Homo sapiens: one gene and its partners. The protein of the gene in region 3 interacts with the protein of the main gene of each other region in a biochemical or structural test. Each region holds a gene or a part of one and is shown on either strand. Other genes may lie near its edges.

What was found.
Region 1: the proteins of UBE3C (region 3) and BRAF form a complex in vitro, tested with the Homo sapiens proteins (one study listed by BioGRID).
Region 2: of the proteins of UBE3C (region 3) and CAND2, one has a biochemical effect on the other in vitro, tested with the Homo sapiens proteins (one study listed by BioGRID).

What each region holds. Positions count from the first base shown.
Region 1 is NC_000007.14:140,732,826-140,739,929, forward strand, and holds part of BRAF (serine/threonine-protein kinase B-raf), read right to left. Parts: coding exon 6,987-7,104; intron 1,946-6,986; coding exon 1,772-1,945; 3' UTR 1-1,771. UniProt on the Homo sapiens protein: Protein kinase involved in the transduction of mitogenic signals from the cell membrane to the nucleus. Phosphorylates MAP2K1, and thereby activates the MAP kinase signal transduction pathway. Phosphorylates PFKFB2.
Region 2 is NC_000003.12:12,791,849-12,799,745, reverse strand, and holds the start of CAND2 (cullin-associated NEDD8-dissociated protein 2), read right to left. Parts: upstream 3,067-7,897; 5' UTR 3,026-3,066; coding exon 2,958-3,025; intron 2,541-2,957; exon of another isoform or gene 2,310-2,540; intron 1-2,309.
Region 3 is NC_000007.14:157,134,394-157,141,952, reverse strand, and holds the start of UBE3C (ubiquitin-protein ligase E3C), read right to left. Parts: upstream 3,028-7,559; 5' UTR 2,681-3,027; coding exon 2,615-2,680; intron 2,164-2,614; exon of another isoform or gene 1,938-2,163; coding exon of another isoform or gene 1,935-1,937; intron 1-1,934. UniProt on the Homo sapiens protein: E3 ubiquitin-protein ligase that specifically catalyzes 'Lys-29'- and 'Lys-48'-linked polyubiquitin chains.

The DNA of each region.
Region 1 (7,104 bases), about 16 Mb from region 3:
TGGCCAAACATTTGGAGCATTCCACAAAGTCAATTTTGTAAAAACTTTGTTAGTTACATGCTTGCTAGTCTTCTATTTGTGAATGAATAAAACCCTATCTAACAATTACTAATAATCATATATTTAATGCCACTGGAGGATTTAAAAATCATATACTTAGATATTTTCCAATAGTTGTACTTCTTTATTCCTTAGTATCATTTTTAAAAATACGTGAAATGTTCCTTTTCATTTTCTTAACTAAAGTCATGAATCAATTCTGATTCATAATGGCATTACTTATCTTAAGCTACCCAAATGAGGGGTTAAAGATTTGCCGTAATTATTATTGAGTGATTTTCCTGGATGACATCTAAGTATTCAAATAAAGAAAATGTTTCAAAAATTTATTTGTGGGTACTTAAAAACTAAATTATCATTAATTTAAAGTCTTCTCAATTTCCTTCTTTATTGACTTCAAGGAGGCATTTATGCAGATATGTGTTTACTGGAAGAACCTTGATCTATTGGCTACATTTAAAAATCATGACAAAACCAAATTGAGTAAGTGAAGATATAGTTAAGAGGCTGACAGTGAAGCAGAGATGGCCAAATCTTTGATAGGACCACGTGCTGTTGCTTTCTACTTTTGATTCCCTCTGAATCACAGTAAGAATACACTGACCACCACATTACAGTCATTTTCTACACAACAAAGTGTAAGTACTAAAGAACCCTAACAAATACTTCATACCATTGAATGAAAAAAGGAGAAGAGCATTCATTCATCATAAGTAGAATCTTGCTGGGCAAAGAATATAAGGAGGACAGAACATGAGACACAATGATAAGGTGATTGCTAAAATATGCATCATGAGAGGTAAGAATAATCTAATAACAACTTTAAAAAATCTATTACCTGGTGTTTGGCAACCAGAGGTATCTCAAAGAAAAACACACCTAAAAGTTCTCACAGAATTCTGTGAAGATTTTTTGCAGGGGAGAGATTGGGTGTGAAGGGAGCAATGCGTTTGCAACAAAATTTGACTTCTACATGAGCGAGACATCCTTAATGTATTTTAAAAAAAGCTATTTAAAAGAAACTCCAATTTATAACATTTTCCCGCTAAAAATCCGAAGTTAAGACATTTTACTCATGTCAAACGTGCCACTCCTCAGCAATATTTTTGGTCACCTGCACTCAAAATTTATAAAAAGAAACTTAGTTTATTGCTTCAAGGAAATAAAAGACATCCACATTTTCCAAATTGTTATAAAAAGAAATAGTTATAGAAAAATTATTAAGAATAATAATAGAATTATTAAATTCTACTGACTTCCTAAATTAGATCTGTTCAGTTTGCCTTATCTAACCCAGGCTAACCGACTGCCAACTTCTCACCTGCAAACACAGGCATAGGTAGGGTCTTCTTCTGGAGTCCCTAGTGGACATGTGATAGCTGGCAACAAAAGTTGCATGAGAAACTGAAGTTTACTACTTAAAATAACCAAGTGAATGATACAAACCCGGAACAGAAAGTAAAGCCTCTAGAAGAGGCTCTGCCAATTTTTAGCAATGTCTATGTATTTTAACCCTTGGATGTTAAAAATCCAATGTTAAGTATAAATTTTAGTTTGGGGAAAAATTATATCTAGTCTTTAACCACACAAGTGTTCTTTGGTTCACCTTAAAAAAAAAGAGAGTATTTTATTCAATTTAACATATAAGCAAACATATGTTCATTTATTTTCCTTTTGTTGCTACTCTCCTGAACTCTCTCACTCATTTGTTTCAGTGGACAGGAAACGCACCATATCCCCCTGCCTGGATGGGTGTTTTTGGAGAAGCACAAGCATATAGACTAAAATCCTCTGTTTGGAAACCAGCCCGATTCAAGGAGGGTTCTGATGCACTGCGGTGAATTTTTGGCAATGAGCGGGCCAGCAGCTCAATAGAGGCGAGAATCTACAAAAAAAAAAAGAAAAAAAAAAGAAAAAAAAAGAAAAAAGAAAAAAAAAGAAAGAAAGAAAAAGAAAAAACAGAAAGAAGAATGAAAATCTGGGTGGTATAAATCTTTAAGAGTCCCATCACACTTTACAAGAAAGCACCTGAAATCTTACATTGTTTTCAGCATTGTCATAAATGCTTGGGAAAATATTTGTAAATAATTGGTATTTTTTCTTAAGAAGAAACTCTCTCTGTAAATTAAATGGGGAGAGTAATTCTTAGTCAGCTTTTATTTATATTTTAGATCATTTGTTAGTCTTGAAACAGTAAATAATAGAAATTTAAAACCAATTTTATACCTTTTTGTTATAGACCACAAGTCTCTTTTGGGAAGAAGATGGAGTATAAATAAGTAAAGCACTTTATGACTATCTCTAAACAGAATTATCACAGCTACTTGCCCTTTAAAGAAACCTAGCCATGGGAAATGTTTTACATACACCTAATTGAAAGCAGAACCTCACAGACCCAGAGTGCTAGTAGCACATGAGAAGTGACAGGGGACAACCCAAGAGCAAAGATAGGAGAACTCGACAAATAGACCCCAATATATAAAATGCAGAAATTCACAATTTTAAGGCACAAAGAAACAGGTTATAATCCTTGAAGGCATACAGCATGATAATGCATGTTCATAATCATGAAACATGTTTAAAGGGCTTGGCATAATGCCTGGCCTATAATAAGCACTCAATAAAACCTTAGCAGCTATTATTATTACTTTTGTTATTGTCCTGAGATACCAATTTTTTTTTTTTTTTGAAACGGAGTCTCGCTGTTGTCAACCAGGCTGGAGTGCAGTGGCACAATCTCAGCTCACTGCAACCTCCCCCTCCTGGGTTCAAGCGATTCTCCTGCCTCAGCCTCCTGAGTAGCTGGGATTACAGGAGCGCACCACCATGCCCAGCTAAATTTTTGTATTTTTAGCAGAGACAGGGTTTCACCACGTTGGCCAGGCTGGTCTCAAACTCCTGACCTCAGGTGATCTGCCTGCCTCGGCCTCCCAAAGGGCTGGGATTACAGACATGAGCCACCATGCCTGGCTGAAAATTGTTTTTAAAAGTTAAATTTTTTTTAAAAAGTAATCTTTATGATGATTAGTATAAGACAAAGAAGTAAGCAGTTGCAAAAAATTGTAAATTCCAAGTATAACATGCAAATAAAAATTAAAATACTATAGAAATGTATAAAGAGTATAAGGCTCTCAAATCCTGCTCTCCAGGGATAACCACTGTTAGAGTCTATACTTTCTTCTGTACCTTTTTTTTTTTTTTTTGAGATGGAGTCTCACTCTATTGTCCAGGCTGGAGTGCAGTGGCGCGATCTCAGCTCACTGCAACCTCCGCCTCCCAGGTTCAAGCGATTCTCCTGCCTCAGCCTCCCGAGTAGCTGGGATCACAGGCGTGTGCCACCACGCCCGGATAATTTTGTATTTTTAGTAGAGACGGGTATCACCATTTTGCCCAGGCTGGTCTCGAACTCCTAACCTCAACTGATCCACCCACCTTGGCCTCCCAAAGTGCTGGGATTACAGGTGTGAGTCACTGCGCCTGGCCTCTTCAGTACCTTTTTTTATGTATAAAAATACATACATGAAAACAAGGCCCACCTGAACACCACTTTTTTTTTTTGGAGATGGAATTTCACTCTTGTTGCCCAGGCTGGAGTGCAATGGTGCGATCTCGGCTCACCGCAACCTCCGCCTCCTGGGTTCAAATGATTTTCCTGCCTCAGCCTCCCGAGTAGCTGGGATTACAGGCATGTGCCACCACGCCTGGCTAATTTTGTATTCTTAGTAGAGTCAGAGTTTCTCCATGTTGGTCAGGCTGGTTTCGAACTCCCAACCTCAGGTGATCCGCCTGCCTCGGCCTCCCAAAGTGCTGGGATTACAGGCGTGAGCCACCGTGCCTGGCCTCTGTTTAACCTTTTAAAGTGGTTATCAGGCTGGGCACTGGGGCTCACGCCTGTAATCCCAGCACTTTGGGAGGCTGAGGCGAGAGGATCGCTTGAGGCCAGGAGTTCAAGACCAGCCAGGGCAACATAGTGAGAATCTATCTCTACAACCACCACCACCACCACCACAAGAAATTAGCTGGGTGTGGTGATAGGCACCTGCAATCCCAGCTACTTAGGAGGCTGAGGTGAGAGGATCGCTTGAGCCCAGGAGTTTGAGGCTGCAGTGGGCTATGATCATATTACTGCACTCCAGCCTGGGCAACAGAACAGGCCCAGCCTATAAAAAAAAAAAATGAGGTATCATACTACATTTTGTTTTCTGTCTTGTTTTCTTTTTCTCTCACCAATATCCATGTCATCAATACAAAACTAACTTAATCTTAATGTCTTTTTCTTATTATAGTAAACATTCTTATATATATCTGAATACTTATGAAATAGGTTACATAGCACAGATTTTTAGAAGTATTTTGAATTTATGGATTCTACCAAGGTCTTCCAAAATGCTGCCTTCCACCAAACCTTTAAAATTTTACATAGAATGCTCCTCCTCACTTCCCAACATTGTTCCCAGTGCTGGATATTACCAACCTGAGAGGCGAAATTAAAATATATTTCACTGTTGTGTCTTTGCATTTTACTGACTGCCATGGAAATATTTACACCTTTTCCTAAGTTCATTCACCATTTGTATTTATTATGTGAATCACCTGTTCATATTCCCTTTGCCCATTTTCTATTGTTTGTTACTTATTGATTTGGAGGAGTCCTTTGTATATTATAAACATTTACTTTTTGTTATATATGCTACAATTATTCTTTTTATCTTTCAATGTTATTTTTCTATATAGAAGTTTAAAAATTTTTAATGTACTCACATCTGCTAATTTTTTCCTTCTGAATTTTGTCTATTAAGAAAGCCTTTCCTACCTCAAAACTATAAAAATGATTTCATATTTTATAAAACATATAGATCTTCAGCCATCTAAAATTTATGTGGCATATAACAGTATGGTGTGAAAAGATATCCTGTAACAAAAATTTCAAAATAACACTTTAAAGGGATAGCCTCCAATAATCTGGAAAGTTCACATATGCACTTCAGTTTTTGAAACCATGTAATTAATGAAATGTTATATTTAGAAGTATGGAGCTAAGCATTTTGCCCCTTTTAATATCATTTAAAAAGTGGGCCTAAGGATGTACTTTGCATTATTAATGTCAATAAACATTCTAAGTAAGAACCCGAGCACCATGACGTGAAAAGAGAACATGGGACAGGGTCATGCTGAAGCTGCTCAGCAGCACTTGTCTCTCACCAGGACAGTCTCAACCCAGAGGTTTCCTGACTTAGAGAAACAAATAAAAAAATAAAAAGAAAAAATAAAAACTCTTCCTCAAAGGAACAGTAACTTTGAAACCTGATAAATGAAACTTATATCTACCCAGCCAACCACTTAGCTTTCCCTTTCTTTTCTTAGGCAACACCCTGACAGACTTGTTAAAACCATCAATTTTATCTTCTTTCATTCTTTAGAGAAGAATAACATTTTTTAGATTTAAAAATAAAGGATGAGTGAATCTAATTCCTGTAACATTGACTTCTGTCTGAGTTACTCAGCTAGGACTGGGCATTCAAAGGCCTAAGAGTTCATACATGAACACTCCAGTAATTATGGTAGCAGGGTTACTATGGGAAATAGCACTTCCCACTTGAAACTGTACTGATTCATCAAGGCATATTTATCCAGTGCTATCAGGAGCTCCCTAAGTATCAGAAAACATTGCATTTATATTATAATATCTACTACAGCTAAACTCTGTAAGCTAGTTGAGGTATTTAGATATTTTTGTTTTGTTTTGTTTTAAACAGAGTCTCATTCTGTTGCCCTGGCTGGAATGCAGTGGTGTCATCTCAGCTCATTACAATCTCCACCTCCTGGGTTCAAGCGATTCTCATGTCTCAGCCTCCTGAGTGGCTGGGATTACAGGCTCCTGCCACTATGCCCAGCTAATTTTTGTATTTTTAGTAGAGACGGTTTTCACCATGTTGGCCAGGCTGGTCTCGAACTCCTGACCTCAACTGATCTGCCTGCCTTGGCCTCCCAAAGTGTTGAGATTTGTAAGCCACGACACCTGGCCTTAGTTACAGTTCTTTTTGAAATTTGTTAACTTAAGGCTTTATCCTTCCAATATGGAAAAAAAAAAAAAAAAGCAGTGAGTTATCAAGAATTAGGTAAAGGCAGGCTGAGCTGACAAATGCCTTACTGCCTTTTCCTTTTTCTGCATCAGGCAGAAATGCCCCTCAAAAAGACCCAGTATTAAAGGAAAGCTTGAATCTGTTTACCACCAAGAAGAAATAAAGCAGTGGTTCACAAAATGTGGTCCGTGGACCACCAGGGGATCCACGAGGTCAAAACTATTTTTGTAATAACAATAAGATATCATTTGCCTTTTTTACTGTCATTATTTTACAAGCGTTAAGTAGAGTTTTTAGGGGTGACATGATGTGAGATATTGCAATGTGAGTGCAAAAGCGGAGAATCCAGCTGTCTTCTTTTTGCAAAGGGATTTGCAAAAAAAGTAAAACAATACAACTCCTCACTAATTTTTTTCTCTTAGATAATAGAACTGTTTTTTTCTAAATATTATTTAACATATTGGTTTACTATGTTTAATTCATTAATATTTTAAAAAATAGTTTTAATTTCTAATAAGGAATTAAAACTTATATAAACAAAAGCTCTTTGTGGGGGGGGGGGTCTTCGATAATTTTTAAATGTGTAAAAGAGTTCAAAGACTGAGAAGTCTGAGAACTGATGGACAAATGCAAAGTCTTTCTGAATATTTTGTATTAGGACCCAAAATTTCTAGGTGTGCCACTGCTCAACCCTCATGAAGCCATCTTAATGTGTTTTCTTGTCTGGAGTCTGCACATAGAATCCAAACTCATGAAATACACACTGTGTGCCCAAAAAAGTGCTCAGAAATCTGTCTATGAATGTTAGTCTGTTCTTTTGGATAGCATGAAGCTTTTACTTACTTGGGGAAAGAGTGGTCTCTCATCTCTTTTCTTTTTGAGGCACTCTGCCATTAATCTCTTCATGGCTTTTGGACAGTTACTCCGTACCTTACTGAGATCTGGAGACAGGTATCCTCGT
Region 2 (7,897 bases), on a different chromosome or scaffold from region 3:
GGCCACCAGAGCATCTTCTCCATTGGACTGTACACTCACTGAGGGCAGAGGCTCATCAGGTTTATCTCTGGGACTCCAGGCTCAACAAAGAACAGGTCTGCAGAGGGCTTTGTCAGGGAGGGTGAGAGCAGGAGGAGAGGTAGTGAGAGAGCTAGCCCTTAACAGAACTTACAGCCAAATAGTCCGAATTCAGAAACCAACTCTTCTGAAGTATGCCTCAGCATTTCAGACACCCCTGGTTCCTGCAGACACTAGCTCTCGGAGAAAGCAAGCCATGTTTTATACGTGTATGTGTGTAGGGATGGGAGAGAGAAGGAAAAGTATATAATTTGGTGGATAAGAGCTTGAGCACCAAAGTTTGGCTTTAAGTGAGTATACTTACTAGTCTTGCCATTTATCAACTAGGTGACATTGGGCAACTACCTCCTTTTCTCTGGGCCTCAGATTTTCTATATATAAAATGGGAACTTTTCTTTGCCCTACCTCATAGTATCCTTGGGAGGTTTCAATAGGACAATCTAGCTCTTAGCATGAGGTAGTAAGAAAACTAGGCTCAGGGAGGCTGCACAAACTGCCTACGGTAACAGCAAACTGGGCGGAAAACCAGCCCACCACACAGGTCTCCTGGCTTTTCAACCAATAATACTACTGTGTTTTCAAGAAATGACTTGGTAATTCCTGCAAGACCTGCAAGGGTACTCGTTTTGACTGCTGGAGCCTCCGTGGTAATGGGGCACCTCCTGCCCATAAAGCCAGGGCCCAGGAAGAACAGGAAACAAAGGTCTCCCTCCACCCCACCTGGGACCCCCATTTGCAGTCGCTGCCCCGCTCCAGGAACCAGAGGACAGTCTCAGTTTCATTACAGAGAAACCCTAGAGGCAACTCAGCTGAAACCCTTGGCCACACGGACGCCTGGACAGCTGGTCTGCAGGACCCAGCACCCTGGTATTCGGACTTTAAAAATAGACACCATTCTCACATGCTTGGGGTGGTTTTAAGTGTTCTCCAGGCCACTGGCAGAGACAGGCTGAAAGGGCTTCTCGGGCTGTAGCTGGCAGGGCCAACTCCCTCTCCCAGAGACTGGACCAGAGGCCTGAGAGACACTAGCGCAAATCCCCTAGGCCACTAGCCAGCTCTGTGACCTTGGGCAAGTCACTGCACTCCTCCAAGCCTCCGGAAAACAGGAAGAACAATCACTACCACCCATGGGTGGACTGAGATTACACGTGGGGTGCACAGTAGGGAGCCTGGGACCCAGCGAACATTCACTAAGCACCTACCGTGTACTCAGCACAGGTGTTGGGGCACTAAGAGGAAGTGCATAGTCCCAGTGGCCCAGGAGCTCAGGGTCTCCCAGGGCTGAAAAGTGATCTAGCAGAAACATGAGGGGAGGCATGATGGGAGCTGAAAGGAGGTACCTAATCCTGCCTGGGGTCAAGAGTTATAGGAGCTGTCAGATGAAGGGAGGAGGTCAAGGGAGAGCAAAGAATCCCCCTAGTGAAGGTCTAGAGAGGGGACAGGGCGTGGCAGATTTTGGATGTGCACAGAATCATAACAGTGTCCGTTTATGAAGCACCGACCTAGTGCCTGCCATGAACCTGAGCATTTCACATGTACTATCTTATTTAATCCTTACCCCAACCCTCAGAGATGGGTTCTGTTATCCCCATTTTATAGAAACAGAAGCACAGGGAGACTCATGGGGGTTAAGTTACTTGTCCATGGTCACACGGCCAGTGAGTGACGGCAGCTGGGATCTGAAGCCAAGACCTTGGATCCCAGGCTCTATTAATGTGGGGGGGCTCTTGAGGGGTACTGAGGAATGGGCTGCAGGAGAAGAGTAGGAGTCAGACCACCAGAGCAGGTCTGTCTCCTCACCTGTCAGGGGGCTGGAATCAGAGGACCTCACTAAGATCTTGGCCTCTGTATTAGACTGGCCTGGATTTGGACTAAGTCTCCCACTTCCTCGCTGTGACTGAACCTACGCCCTTCATGTCTCTGAGACTCAGTTTCCCTATCTGTAAAATGGGGACAAAGTGAAAAAATGTTCATTGAGTCTCCAAGGTCTTCTTTCAGCTGGAGGGGCCAGAACTGGCCATGAGACCACGGGCCAATCCCTTTTCCTCCCTGGGCCTCAGTTTCCCCAGGGAATGCAGGTGGAAACTCATTGGACCAGATGTTTCCACCGTTCTTTTCAGCTCTATTCCTGTGGTTCTGTGATGCTGTGAGAGGGGGAAAGAAGGAAAAAGGGAGTGGGGAAGGAGAGTGGCACACAAAACCTAGAAGGTCCCACCCCAACCATCACCTACCTGTGACTGGAAAGCCAGACTCAGCCCAGCCCCCTCCTTTAGGCTGGGTCTGAACAATCGCAGGAGGGGAGGGAGACGGGGAGGGAGGGGTCCGGGTGATGTTGAGAAGGAGGCATCACTGAGGGTGCCAGTGAGAAAGTCAGCTGGGGGTTGCGGTCCCGGGAAGGGTCCGGGTTCAATGCGGAGGAGAGGCAGGTGCTGGGGTCCCCAGGGAGAGGCGTAGGGCTTCACTGTGGGCTCGCTGAAGGTGGTGGGGGCGGGGGGGAGGGGGCGCTGGGGCATCAGCTGCGGGGGAAGAAGGGGGCCGGACACACACGAGGGAGGAGAGGCCGAGGCAGGGTGCAGAGGGGTGGAGCCGGGGCTCTGATCGGGGGTGAGAGGTAGGGCTGAAGCCTGCACGGTGGGAGACGAAGCAGGGACTGGAGTCGCGGAGGGGCAGGACGGCCCCTAGGGGAGAACGGCCGGAGCTCCAGTGGGGACCACGAGGCAGGAGTGGGCCTGTGGGGAGGGGGGCAGCTTAATGCAGGGAGAAGAGAGAAGAGGCAGGGGGCTGCATGGTCATGGGGGATGGGCTGGCGCTTCGAGAGGGGAAGAAGGCCCCCGGCTTCAGAGCGGGAAGGAGAGAAGGGGGCCGGCGGCGGGCTGCACCTGAAGTCCTTGTCGCTGGACGTCATCTTCTCCAGGAGGCTGGAGATGTGGAAGGCGGCGGTGCTCATGGTGGCTGCGCGCCGCGGAGCCGGCCGGCGGGAGGGAATATGGCGGCGCGGGCGCCCCCTCCCTCGCCAGCTGCGCGGGCTGCGCTCACCAGACAGAAATAGCAGCTCCCGCCCCGCCCCGTGCTCACGCCTTGGCCGTGGCGGCCGCGGGAGGCGGGCGGGCCTGGGCCTGGCTTGGTGGTCTTGGCCCCGGCCCCAGCCCTTGCCCTGCTGACAGCGCAGCGCCGGATTGCACACACCCCCAGAGACGGGGAGCTCACTACCCTGCCACCACCTCCTTGTTATTCCCGTAGGTGCCAGCTCTGTCTTGCGGCATGGACGTAATATCATAGAGTCTCAGGTTCGAATCCCACTTCTGCCTCTTCTGCTGTGTAGCCTTGGCCAAGTTACTTTACCTCCGCTTTCTCATCTGTAGGCATTCAAGAAACAGGAGCTATCAACCAAAGCTGGTCAGGCCAACCAAAAGACCCCTCACCCACGATGCTTGCCCGCCCCTGAGCCAGACAGGATCTGGGGAATGAACTGAGTCACACAAGGCCCCCTGCCTCGCATCCCCAACCCTCAGGACGGCAGGGTCAGTTTCTTCATTTTTTTAGCAATGCAACTGAGGCCGAGAAGCAAAGGGATTTGCTGAGGGTCACACAGCCAATGAATCTGGGATGGAGTCAGGATTGACTGCAGATCCCTTAATATCCTGCGCAGCAATCCTTCCATAAACAGCCAGGAGGCTGCTGGATGGGAAAGGGAGTAGTGTGTGCTTCAGAGCCAGACAAGCCTGGCTTCAAATCTCTGCTAGGCTCCTTCCTGGCTGTGTGACCTTGGGATAATGAAACAACCTCTCTGGGCTATGTTTTTCTCACTCATAAGATAAGGATAAAAGAAATCTTTATTCACTTGGGAGGCCGAGGCGGGCGGATCACGAGGTCAGGAGATCACGACCATCCTGGCTAACACAGTGAAACCCCGTCTCTACTAAAAATACAAAAAAATTAGCCGGGTGTGGTGGCAGGCGCCTGTAGTCCCAGCTACTCGGGAGGCTGAGGCAGGAGAATGGCGTGAACCCGGGAGGCGGAGCTTGCAGTGAGCGGAGATCGCGCCACTGCACTCCAGCCTGGGCGACAGAGCGAGACTCCGTCTCAAAAAAAAAAAAAAAATCTTTATTAAATTGACACCCCCCTTGAACACCTGTTATTATGAGGTACGTAGGTTCTAGACCAAAGCTAATAGAACACTGCAATGTTGAAAATGTTCTACATCTTCAGTATAGTATCTAATATGATAGCCACTAGCCACATGTGGCTATTGAGCACTTGAAATGGAATTAGTGTGACTGGGGAACCAAATTCTTAATTATATTTATTTTTCATTAACTTAACTTTAAATAGCCCACTATGGGTAGTGGCTATCATAATGGACAGTGCAGATCTGTACAACAAGGATGCAACGCAGCAGGGTGTTAGACACAAACGGCCCCTGCCCCCTGGGGACTTTACATTTTAGTGTAGGAAATCAGCAAGAAGGAAGAAAGTGATTAGATAAGGAAAATAAGAGCTCTTCAGAAAATAAAATAGAGAGTTCCTGGAGCGTGGAGGGGCAACTTCAGCAAAGGTCAGGGAGGGCACTTTTTGAGGAGGAGACATTTGGGCTAAGACCTCAACAGATGAAGCAGCTGGGCAAAGTTTTGAGGGAAGGGCTTCCCAGACAGAGGGAGCAGCAGGTGCAAAGGTCCCGAGGTGGTGGCCGGGTGCGGTGGCTCACACCTGTAATCCCAGCACTTTGGGAGGCCGAGGCAGGAGGATCACGAGGTCAGGAAATCGAGACCATCCTGGCTAACACGATGAAACCCCGTCTCTACTAAAAATACAAAAAAATTAGCCGGGCGTGGTGGCGGGCACCTGTAGTCCCAGCTACTCAGGAGGCTGAGGCAGGAGAATGGCGTGAACCCGGGAGGCAGAGTTCGCAGTGAGACGAGATCGCGCCACTGCACTCCAGCCTGGCGACAGAGCAAGATTCTGCCTCAAAAAAAAAAAAAAAAAAAAAGGTCTCAAGGTGGGAACCAGCCTGATGTGTTTAAGAAAATGCTGTGGCTGGGCCGGGCACGGTGGCTCACGCCTGTAATCCCAGCACTTTGGGAGGCTGAGGCGGGTGGATCACAAGGTCAGGAAATCGAGACCATCCTGGCTAACAAGGTGAAACCCCGTCTCTACTAAAAATACAAAAATTAGCCGGGCGTGATGGTGGGCGCCTGTAATCCCAGCTACTCGGGAGGCTGAGGCAAGAGAATGGCGTGAACCCGGGAGGCGGAGCTTGCAGTGAGCCAAGATGGCACCACTGCACTCCAGCCTGGGAAACAGAGCGAGACTCCATCTCAAAAAAAAGGAAAGAAAGAAAGAAAGAAAAGAAAAGGCTGTGGCTGGCTGGGCGCAGTGGCTCATGCCTGTAATCCCAGCATTTTGGGAGGTTGAGGTGGGTGGATCACATAAGCTCAGGAGTTAAAGACCAGCCTGGGCAACATGGTGAAACCCTGTCTCTACAAAAAATGCAAAAATCAGCCGGGTGTGATGGCACACGCCTGTAGTCCCAGCTACTTGGGGGGCTGAGGTGGAAGAATCTCTTGAACCTGGGAGGCAGAGGTGAGCCTGGGAGGCAGAGGTTGCAGTAAGCTGTGATCGCACCACTGCACTCCAGCCTGGGTGACAAAGTAGACCCTGTTTCAAAAAAAAGGAGGGGAGGAAGGGAGGAAGGGAGGGAGGGAGAGAGGGAGGGCGGGCTATGGCTGGAATGGAATGAGATCAGTCTTCCACTGAGGAAATGAGGACAGAGAGGTGGACAGGGGCCAGATTACTTGAAACCTTTCAGGCCAAGGCAAGGAGTTCGTATTTTATATGGGAACACTAATTTTATGTGGGAACACTAACGCCAGGGAACACTGGATGGCGTAAAGCAAGAAGGTAACTTGATCAGTTTTTGTTGTTGTTTTTGAGACAGAGTATCCCTCTGTTGCCCAGTCTGGAGTGCAGTTGTGTGATCTCGGCTCACTGCAACCTCTGCCTCCCAGGTTCAAGCAGTTCTCCTGCCCCAGCCTCCCGAGTAGCTGGGACTACAGGCACCCGCCGCCACACACGGCAAAATTTTGTATTTTTAGTAGAGATGGGGTTTCACCATGTTGGCCAGGATAGTCTTGAACTCCTGACCTCAGGTGATCCACCCGCCTCAGCCTACCGAAGTGCTGGGATTACAGGTGTGAGCCACTGCGCCCAGCCAGATCAGTTTATTTTATTTTATTTATTTAATTAATTCAGTTATTTATTGAGATGGAATCTTGCTCTGTTGCCCAAGCTGGAGTGCAGTGGTGCAATCTCAGCTCACTGCAACCCCCACCTCCCAGGCTCAAGTAATTCTCCTGCCTCAGCCTCCCAAGTAGCTGGGATTACAGGCACGCATCACCATGCCCAGCTAATTTTTGTATTTTTAGTAGAGACAGGGTTTCACCATGTTGGCCAGAAGCTGGTCTTGAACTCCTGACTTCAGGTGATCTACCTGCTTCGGCCTCCCAAAGTGTTGGGATTACAGATGTGAGCCACTGCACCTGGCCTGGTTTTTTAGAAAGATCTCTTTAGTGCTGAACAGTCCACGCAATCAAGAATCAGGGTGGTTTGGGCCGGGCGTGGTGGCTTATGCCTGTAATCCCAGCACTTCTGGGAGATCACCTGAGGTCAGGAGTTCAAGACCAACCTGGCCAACATGGTGAAACCCTGTCTCTACTAAAAATACAAAAATTAGCCGGGTGTGATGGCACACGCCTGTAGTCCCAGCTACTCGGGAGACTGAGGCAGGGGAATTGCTTGAACCCTGGAGGCGGAGGTGATTGCAGTGAGCGAGATCACACCAATACACTCCAGTCTGGGCAACAGAGCCAGACTCCATCTCAAAAGAAGAAAAAAGAAAAAGAGGCTGGGCATGGTGGCTCATGCCTATAATCCCAGCACTTTCGCAGGCCAAGGCAGGCAGATCATGAGGTCAGGAGATCGAGACTATCCTGGCTAACACAGAGAAACCCCATCTCTACTAAAAATACAAAAAATTAGCCGGGTGTGGTGGCGGGCACCTGTAGTGCCAGCTACTCAGGAGGCTGAGGCAGGAGAATGATGTGAACCCGGGAGGCAGAGCTTGCAGTGAGTGGAGATCATGGGCCACTGCACTCCAGCCTAGGCTACAGAGCGAGACTCTGTCTCAAAGAAAAAAAAAAAGAAAAAAGAATGAGGGTGGTTTGCATTGGGGGAATGGTGGCGAAGATGGGAAGATTCGGGTTATGTCATGGAAATAGAATACAGCAGTTTCATTTGAGGATTGGATTCACATACTTTTTTTTTTTTTTTAGACAACATCTCACTCTGTCGCCCAGGCTAGAGTGCAGTGGCATGATCACCACTCACTGCAGCCTCCACCTCCCGGGCTCAAGCCATCCTCCTGTCTCAGCCACCTGAGCAGCTGGGACTACAGGCACACACCACCACACCTGGCTAATTGAATCCACACTCTTGAATTGGGTGATGATTACAGGTATATATTTGTAAAAATTAATCAAGCTGTACTTTGCTATATGTAACTGTTGCCTCAATAAAAAGGAGGGAAATGGGCTGGGCTCGGTAGCTCTAGCCTGTAATACCAGCACTTTGGGAGGCTGAGGTGGGTGGATCACTTGAGGTCAGGAGTTCGAGACCAGCCTGGATAACATGGTGAAACCCCGTCTCTACTAAAAATACAAAATTAGCCAGGTGTGGTGGCGCGCACCTGTAATCCCAGTTACTTTGGAGGCCGAGGCAGGAAAATTGCTGGGAGGTGGAGATTGCAGTGAGCCAAGATCATGCC
Region 3 (7,559 bases):
CATCTAGGACCCAGCACAAGAGTATTATGTGCACCAAAAGGCACACACAGCAAAGGTCTGTAAGAAAACAGAATCAGCCACGGTGCGTTCACACAAAGGGCAATGCCGTGCACCGAGGCGGATGGAGTCCACCTCTCAGACAGAAGCCAAGCCAAAGCAGCCGGGCACAAACGACAAGTGGTGAGTGGCTCCATGCCCCTGAAGTTCAACAGGTAACGCTCATCTACAGTAATGGAGGTCAGAAGGACAGTCACCTTTGTGGGGCTACAGACATACATGGCATAATGACCTCTCAGTCTGTCGACAACAGACCACATATACACCGTGGTCCCATAAGATTATAATTTGTATTTTTACTGTATCTACGTTTGGATGCACAGACACTCACCATTGCATGAAGAGCTGCCTACAGTATTCAGCACAGAAACACGCTGTCCAGGTGTGTAGCATAGGGGCAACGGGCTGTACCAAGCAGCTAGGTGTGCAGTGGGCAACACTGGCTATAGGTTTCTGTTAAGTGCACTCTAGGACGGTCCCACAACAACCAACTGGACTAGTGACAGCGTCCCCCTCTTTAAGTCACATATGACTGTAATGAATGGGTGAGAGTGCAGGGGAGCCTCTGGAATGCTGGGGATGGTCTTCCTTTGATGTGAGTGGTGTTCCATCTACAGGAGAGTGTCCATATGCAAAAATCCTTCAAGCTGTACATACAGCTGGCTCCCCACCCAGATTCCTTAACCAGGCCAGGGCACCCATGCCCCAGCTGCTGCCAGTTCCTACTAAGGGCTCTTTACTGCCACTCTCTCCCAGAAGAATGGCCCTCGGCTCAGGGTTAGCAGTGCCACACTCCCACCCTCATCCCGGAGGGGCAGCAGCCTGCAGCCACCAACCCCTCTGCCGCAATTAGGGCCAATTGTAGCATGCTCCTGGTGAGATGGGGTTAACGCTAGCCTCCAGCTGAGACGCCTTTTCCTTCCCTACCCAGCTTCCCTCTCGCCCTTCCTCCTCAATTTCACTTGCACAAGGATCTCTTTAGTGTTTGTGAACCTGACTGTATCTTAAGTTATACCTCAATAAAAAGAGTTTTGTTTTTAAAGGGGTGATTCTTTTACACAGCTCGTGCTATCTTCCCTTGAGATTCTGATCAACAGTTAAGAAATCTCACTCCCTCAGAGCAGAGATGCACTCCTTGGTGAAAAGGGACCAACATCCGTGGCCCGTGGGGTGTTCCTGCCTGCAACAGAGGCCGCGCGGCGCTGTGTAAATGGCATGGAGTCTCAGATGGTCTGCCACTAGCTTGCTGTGTGAATGGGCACTCCTTCAAATGTTCTGCAGCTCACCTTCCGAACTTGTAAGCAAGGCGATTTGGCCCTGAGATTCTCTGAAGTCTCTCCTAACTGTAGAAATCCTTTGATCTCATAAAACATTTTCATTAACGTGGAAGACCCTAAGTGCTACCACGACCACCCTTAACTGCACAGTACTTAGTTCTGGAGCACAAGTGACTTCCAAGCAATCACCATCACACGAACCTCAAAGCTGAAAAATTATCAGCACACTTCTCTCCCAACTCTTTACCCAGGTTCCCTTCTAACCTCAGAAACCACCAAACACAGCCCCACAGCACAATCTTAATAACAGCAGTTCCTCCTTGGCCTGCCAGCACCCACTCTGCGTTATGTGCCTACCTGGTGGTTGTGATATACAGAATATACTGATAGACAAGAAAAACTAGGTGAAGCATTTTAAAGAACATTTCAGAAATGATGGGAAGGGGTGGGAAGGGAGGGGCGGGAACAAGACCACACAGTGTTCAACGACTTAGCGGTTCCAGTGAACCAACTGATGCCCGTCTTCAGGGACAGACAGCTAGAAATTCTAGACTAGAACAGAGGCGTCATGGTTTGCCTACCCTTATCCTAAACAATTACCATGCGAACAACTTAATGTCGATCACAACAGATGTAAGTCCGGAGTCTCTCCACAGTTTCCAGGAGGCTGGTGGCAAATAATTGCCCTCGTCTTGGATTCAAACACGTGGCTATTCATGAGACGTTCTGCCTCTACTTTAGAGATTATCGACATCAGCAAATGCGTGCCGTTCACCTTCTACAACCGAAAACGCCCTTCAGGTGGCATTCGAAAAGCAGCCACTCCCTGATGCCATGCGGGAGCGAGCATGGAAAGCGCATTTCTGAAAGGAAACACCCAGAAAGGGTAAGTTCACCTTGGGTGGCACAAAGCGTGCCAGGGTTCACCGGCCTCCTGCATGGAAGGGAGCCACGGCCAGCGCGCCCGGGTCCCGAAGCGCAGTGGACAGGCAAGGCCCCCACGGGCGCGGCCTCGAGTTCCAGCCAGGGAGGCCCCGAGTCCAGTCCTAAGCCCCAGCCAGAGTCCTGGCCCCAAGTCTCGGCTCCGAGTCCAACCCCGAGTCCCGGCCGGAGCGGCCCCGAGATCCGGCGAGGAAGCCCCGAGTCCCCGCCAGGGAGGCCCCGAATCCAGCCCCAAGTCTCGGCCCCGAGTCCAGCCCCGAGTCCAGCCCCGAGTCCCAGCCCCGAGCCCCGGCCGCGCAGGCCCCGAGCCGAGGGCGCCCCGCCAGCCCGGCCCTCACCTTCCTGCTCGCGCCGCCAAGGGACACCTTGGGCCGCGTCTTGAAGTCGCCTTCGAAGCTGAACATCCTGGCAGCCTAGCCCATGTGCGGGCAGCGCCGCCGCGGAAGCAGCCGGGCGGGCGGGGCACGGGGCGGGCTGGGAGGCTCTCGGCGCCCGCCCGCCCGGCCCGGGGCAGCGAGGACGCGGCGGCCGGGAGGCGACCCGAGCCCGCCCCCGGGCTGTACCCTCCCAGCCCTGCCCTGGGGCGGGAGGGGCGGCAATACTGGAGGGGCGGCCCTGCCTCGCCTGCCCCTCATCCACGCCGGCCACAGCTCGGGCCGCTGCAGGGGCGCCCAGCGGGCAGCAAACCCGGCGCTTGCACCTGGAACTGCCGCCTCGGGAGGGAAGATGGCGGTCAGCCGTCAGTGCGTGCGCGGCCCTGCAGACGTGCGCGGCCCTGCAGACGTGCGCGGCCCTGCAGACGTGCGCGGCCCTGCAGACGTGCGCGGCCCTGCAGACGTGCGCGGCCCTGCAGACGTGCGCGGCCCTGCAGACGTGCGCGCCTCCGCCATTGACGGCACGGCGCTCTTCCCGGCGGTTCCGCTAGCGTGCGCGGCCCCGCAAGGCGCGCTGGAGCCTGGGGAGGACGGCGGTGACGCGGGCTGGGCACGCGGCGGAGTGGGCGGGGCCTGGTGCGTGCTGGGGGAGCGCGGCGAGGGGCGCGGGAGGTGTTGGGTGCGGGGCAGGGTGCGGGAAAGGTGGAGTGCGAGGCACGGGCCGGGATGGGGTGCAGGGCAGGGTGCGGGGTGCAGGGTGGGGTGCAGGGGCCGGCACCCGGAGCGGGCTGGGAGCGGCCAATCTGGTGCCAGACTCGAGTGAGGCGGGAAAGGAGCAGCTAGGCCCAGCCCGTCTGTTTACATCCCACCTGTTCTATGTCTATGACACGCACAGACGGACGTAAATATTTACCATGTACACAGACATGCGCAGATTTGCCTCATACATAGCACACATATGCATCTATAGATACAGCATCAATACATATAAATATGTATCATGTACACATACCTGTGTATGCAAAAATATTTGCTCCTGGACTTACCATGGGGCTTTGTCCTGATAAACCCATCGTAAGATGAAAATATTGTAAGTTGAAAATGTATTTAATGCTACAATAAACCCATCACAAAGTCAAAAAATTGTAAGTTGAGCCATTTTAAGTTGGGGACCACCTATACATAAACATGTGTCTTATATCCACACATACGTATACATAATATCTCATATACATGTGCATATACATATATATCATACACGATTGAAACCAATTTCTAAAAATTGATTTTTGGTTGTATACAAGGTGTGCAACATGATGATTTCATAGAGACATTGTGAAATGACTACCCTCTTTGTGTGTGTGTGGTAAGAGTACATAAAATCTACTCTCTTAGCAAAATTTCAACACACAATACGATATCATCTACAGTCGTCCTGCGGCCGAGCACGGTCGCTCACGCCGGTAATCCCAGCACTCTGGGAGGCCAAGGCGGGCGGATCACCTGAAGTGAAAAGTTCGAGACCAGCCTGGCCAACATGGTGAAACCCCATCTCTAATAAAATACAAAACTTAGGCCGGTGTGGTGGTGCACGCCTGTAGTCCAAGCTACTCTGGAGGCTAAGGCAGGAGAATTGCTTGAACCCAGGAGGCAGAGGTTGCAGTGAGCTGAGATCGTGTTATTGCACTCCGGCCTGGGCGACACAGAGACTCCGTCTCAAAAAAAAAAAAAAAAAAAGAAATACAGTCCTGGCGCCGCCTGTAATCCCAGCACTTTGGGAGGCTAAGGTGGGTGGATCACCTCAGGTCAGGAGTTTGAGACCAGCCTCGCCAACATGGGGAAACCCCGTCTCTACTAAAAGTACAAAAATTAGCTGAGCATGGTGGCATGTTTATGTATAGGTGGTCCCCCACTTAAAGTTCTTAAACTTCTAGCTGCTTGGGAGGCTGAGACAAGAGACTCGCTTGTGTCTGCGAGGCGGAGGTTGCAATGAGCTGAGATCGTGCCACTGTACTCCAGCCTGGGTGACAGAGTGAGACTCTGTCTCAAAAAATAAAAATAAACAGGCCGGGCGCGGTGGCTCACGCCTGTAATCCCAGCACTTTGGGAGGCCGAGGCGGGCAGATCACGAGGTCAGGAGATCGAGACCATCCTGGCTAACACAGTGAAACCCCGTCTCTACTAAAAATACCAAAAAAATTAGCCAGGCATAGTGGCAGGCGCCTGTAGTCCCAGCTACTTGGGAGGCTGAGGCAGGAGAATGGCGTGAACCCGGGAGGCGGAGCTTGCAGTGAGCCGAGATCGCGCCACTCGCGCCACTGCACTCCAGCCTGGGGAACAGAGGGAGACTCCGTCTCAAAATAAATAAATAAAAATAAAAATTAATAACAATAATAATAAACAGTCCTCCTGTGAACATTAGATCTGTGGGCATATTTATGCTACATAACTGCGAGTGTGTTTCCTTTTACATATCTCTCCCCATTTTTCCCAGCCCCAGGAAGCACCACTCTACTCTCTGTTTCTAGATAGGATTTGACTGTTGGATTCCACGTATAAGTGAGCTCATCAGTATCTTTCTCTCTGTCTCGCTTATTTAACTTGGCATCATGTCCTCCAGGTTCACACATGTAGCCAATGACAGGAATTCCTTCTGTATCTTGCTGTTATGAATAATGTTGCAATGAACTGAGAGGAGCTCCAGAAGAAACAATTTCATTTCCTGTAGATATATAACCAGCAGAGGGATCGCTGAGTCATGTGGTAGTTCCAGTTTTGTTTTTTTTGAGGAAACTCCATACTGTTTGCCATAATGGCTGTACCTCCAACGATGGGCAAAGGCTTCTATTTCCCCACACCCTCACCAACACTTGTCTTTTGGATAATAGCCATGCTAATACTGTGAGGTGATATTTCATTGTGGTTTTGTTTTGCATTTCCTTGACGGTTATTGACGATGAGCACCTTTTCATTACCTCTTGGCCGTTTTTATGTCTATTTGGAAAAATTCAGGCCCTTTGCTCGTTTTTTAATTGGGAAAAGCCAAATTTTAAAACTAATATTTGTCATTACTATGTGGAATGCACTGTTTTTTTTAAAAAAAATTCTGTCTTTTTATTTTATTTTATTATTATTTTTTTGAGACAGGGTCTCACTGTATTGCCCAGGCTGGAGTGCTGTGGTACGATCACAGCTAACTGCAGCCTCAACCTCCTGTGCTCAGGCAATTCTCCCAGTTCAGCGTCCCAAATGGCTGGACCAGGTGTGTGCCAGTAGCCTGGCTTTCCCCCCAACCCCCCAGCTTTCCCCCCCCCCCCACTTCTTGTAGAGGTGGGTCTCATTATGTTGCCCAGGCTGGTCTCAGATTCCTGGGCTCAAGAGATCCTCCTGCCTCGGCCTCCCAAAGTGCTGGGATTACAGGCATGAGCCACTGCACCCACTGTCGTCGTCTTCTTTTTAATGCTAGACGCAAAGCACTAAATACGTTTCACAATCCACTAATGGGTCTCAGCTCACAGTTTGAAAAAATCTGCCATATAAATTAAATATAGACAGATAGATGGTTAGAAAGATATACAAACACTCTACTGTTGTCTGAATGTTGGTGTCTCCCCAAAATCATAGTTTGAAACTTAGTCCCCAATGTGATCGTATTAAGAGGAGGGGCCATTAGGAAGTCTTATAGCATGAGGCTCCACCCCCATGAAGGAAATCAGTGCCCAAGGCAGCCTGTTTGTCCCTCCTGCCATGGGGAGACACAGCAAGAAGGCACCATCTATGAAGCAGAGTCCTCAGACGCAGAATGTGGGGTGCCTTGATCTTGGACTTCCCAGATTCCAGAGCTGTGAGAGATATATTTCTGTTGTCCAAAAATTACCCAGGCCAAGGCATTTTGTTATAGCAACCCAAATAGACTAAGGCACCCACACCCAGACACAAATGTGTGTGTGTATATATATGTGAACAAGGTCACAGTTCGTATATATGTATGAACTATCATAGTTCATACATATATTTGAACTGCAACAGTATAGAATGTATTTTTAATCATAAAATGTCCCAATTTTACCATTTTGAAAGCTTACAAATTTTGTCAATTAAAAAAGATATAACCTTTTGTTTTTACCTGTCAGGTTAGCAAAGATTTAAAATTGGTAATATCAATATTTGTGACCTCTGTAAGTCTGCTCTGAAGTCTCAGATTCTTTTTTTTTTTTTTTTTTTTTTGAGACAGAGTCTTGCTCTTGTTGCCCGGGTTGGAGTGCAATGGCGTGATCTTGGCTCACTGCAGCTTCCACCTCTCCACCTCCTGGGTTCAAGCGATTCTCCTGTCTCAGCATCCCGAGTAGCTGGGATTATAGGTGCGCTACCATGCCCGGCTAATTTTTGTGTTTTTAGTAGAGATGGGGTTTCACCACGTTGATCAGGCTGATCTTGGACTCCTGACCTCAGATGATCCGCCCGCCTTGGCCTCCCAAAGTGCTGGGATTACAGGCGTGAGCCACCGCGCCCAGCCTGAAGTCTGAGATTCTGCTTCGAATGAACCCTTCCAATGTCTGGACTAGGAGGAGGAGCAAGAATGCCCATGTGAATCTCACACCAACCTCAGTGTTGCTGGTAACTGGGGGGTGCTGTCCCACATCTGCTGGGCCTCTTTCAAATGTTCTGACCGGCCCACATGGGTAGGGAAGAAGTGCTCCTGACTGCACCTCTGCCCATCTCAACACCGCTGCCTGGCATCTGGTCTGTTTCCACAGTCAGCCCAGGGTGGGTGCTCCTCTGTGCTGAGGTCGGTGCGTCTGCTGGGTGGCCCTGCTCCATGAGCCACTTCTTCCCCTGGTGTCCACTGGAGAACCAGTGATGCCACAGGAAAATCTGTCTTATCAGGATCATTTCAGCATCTTTAACA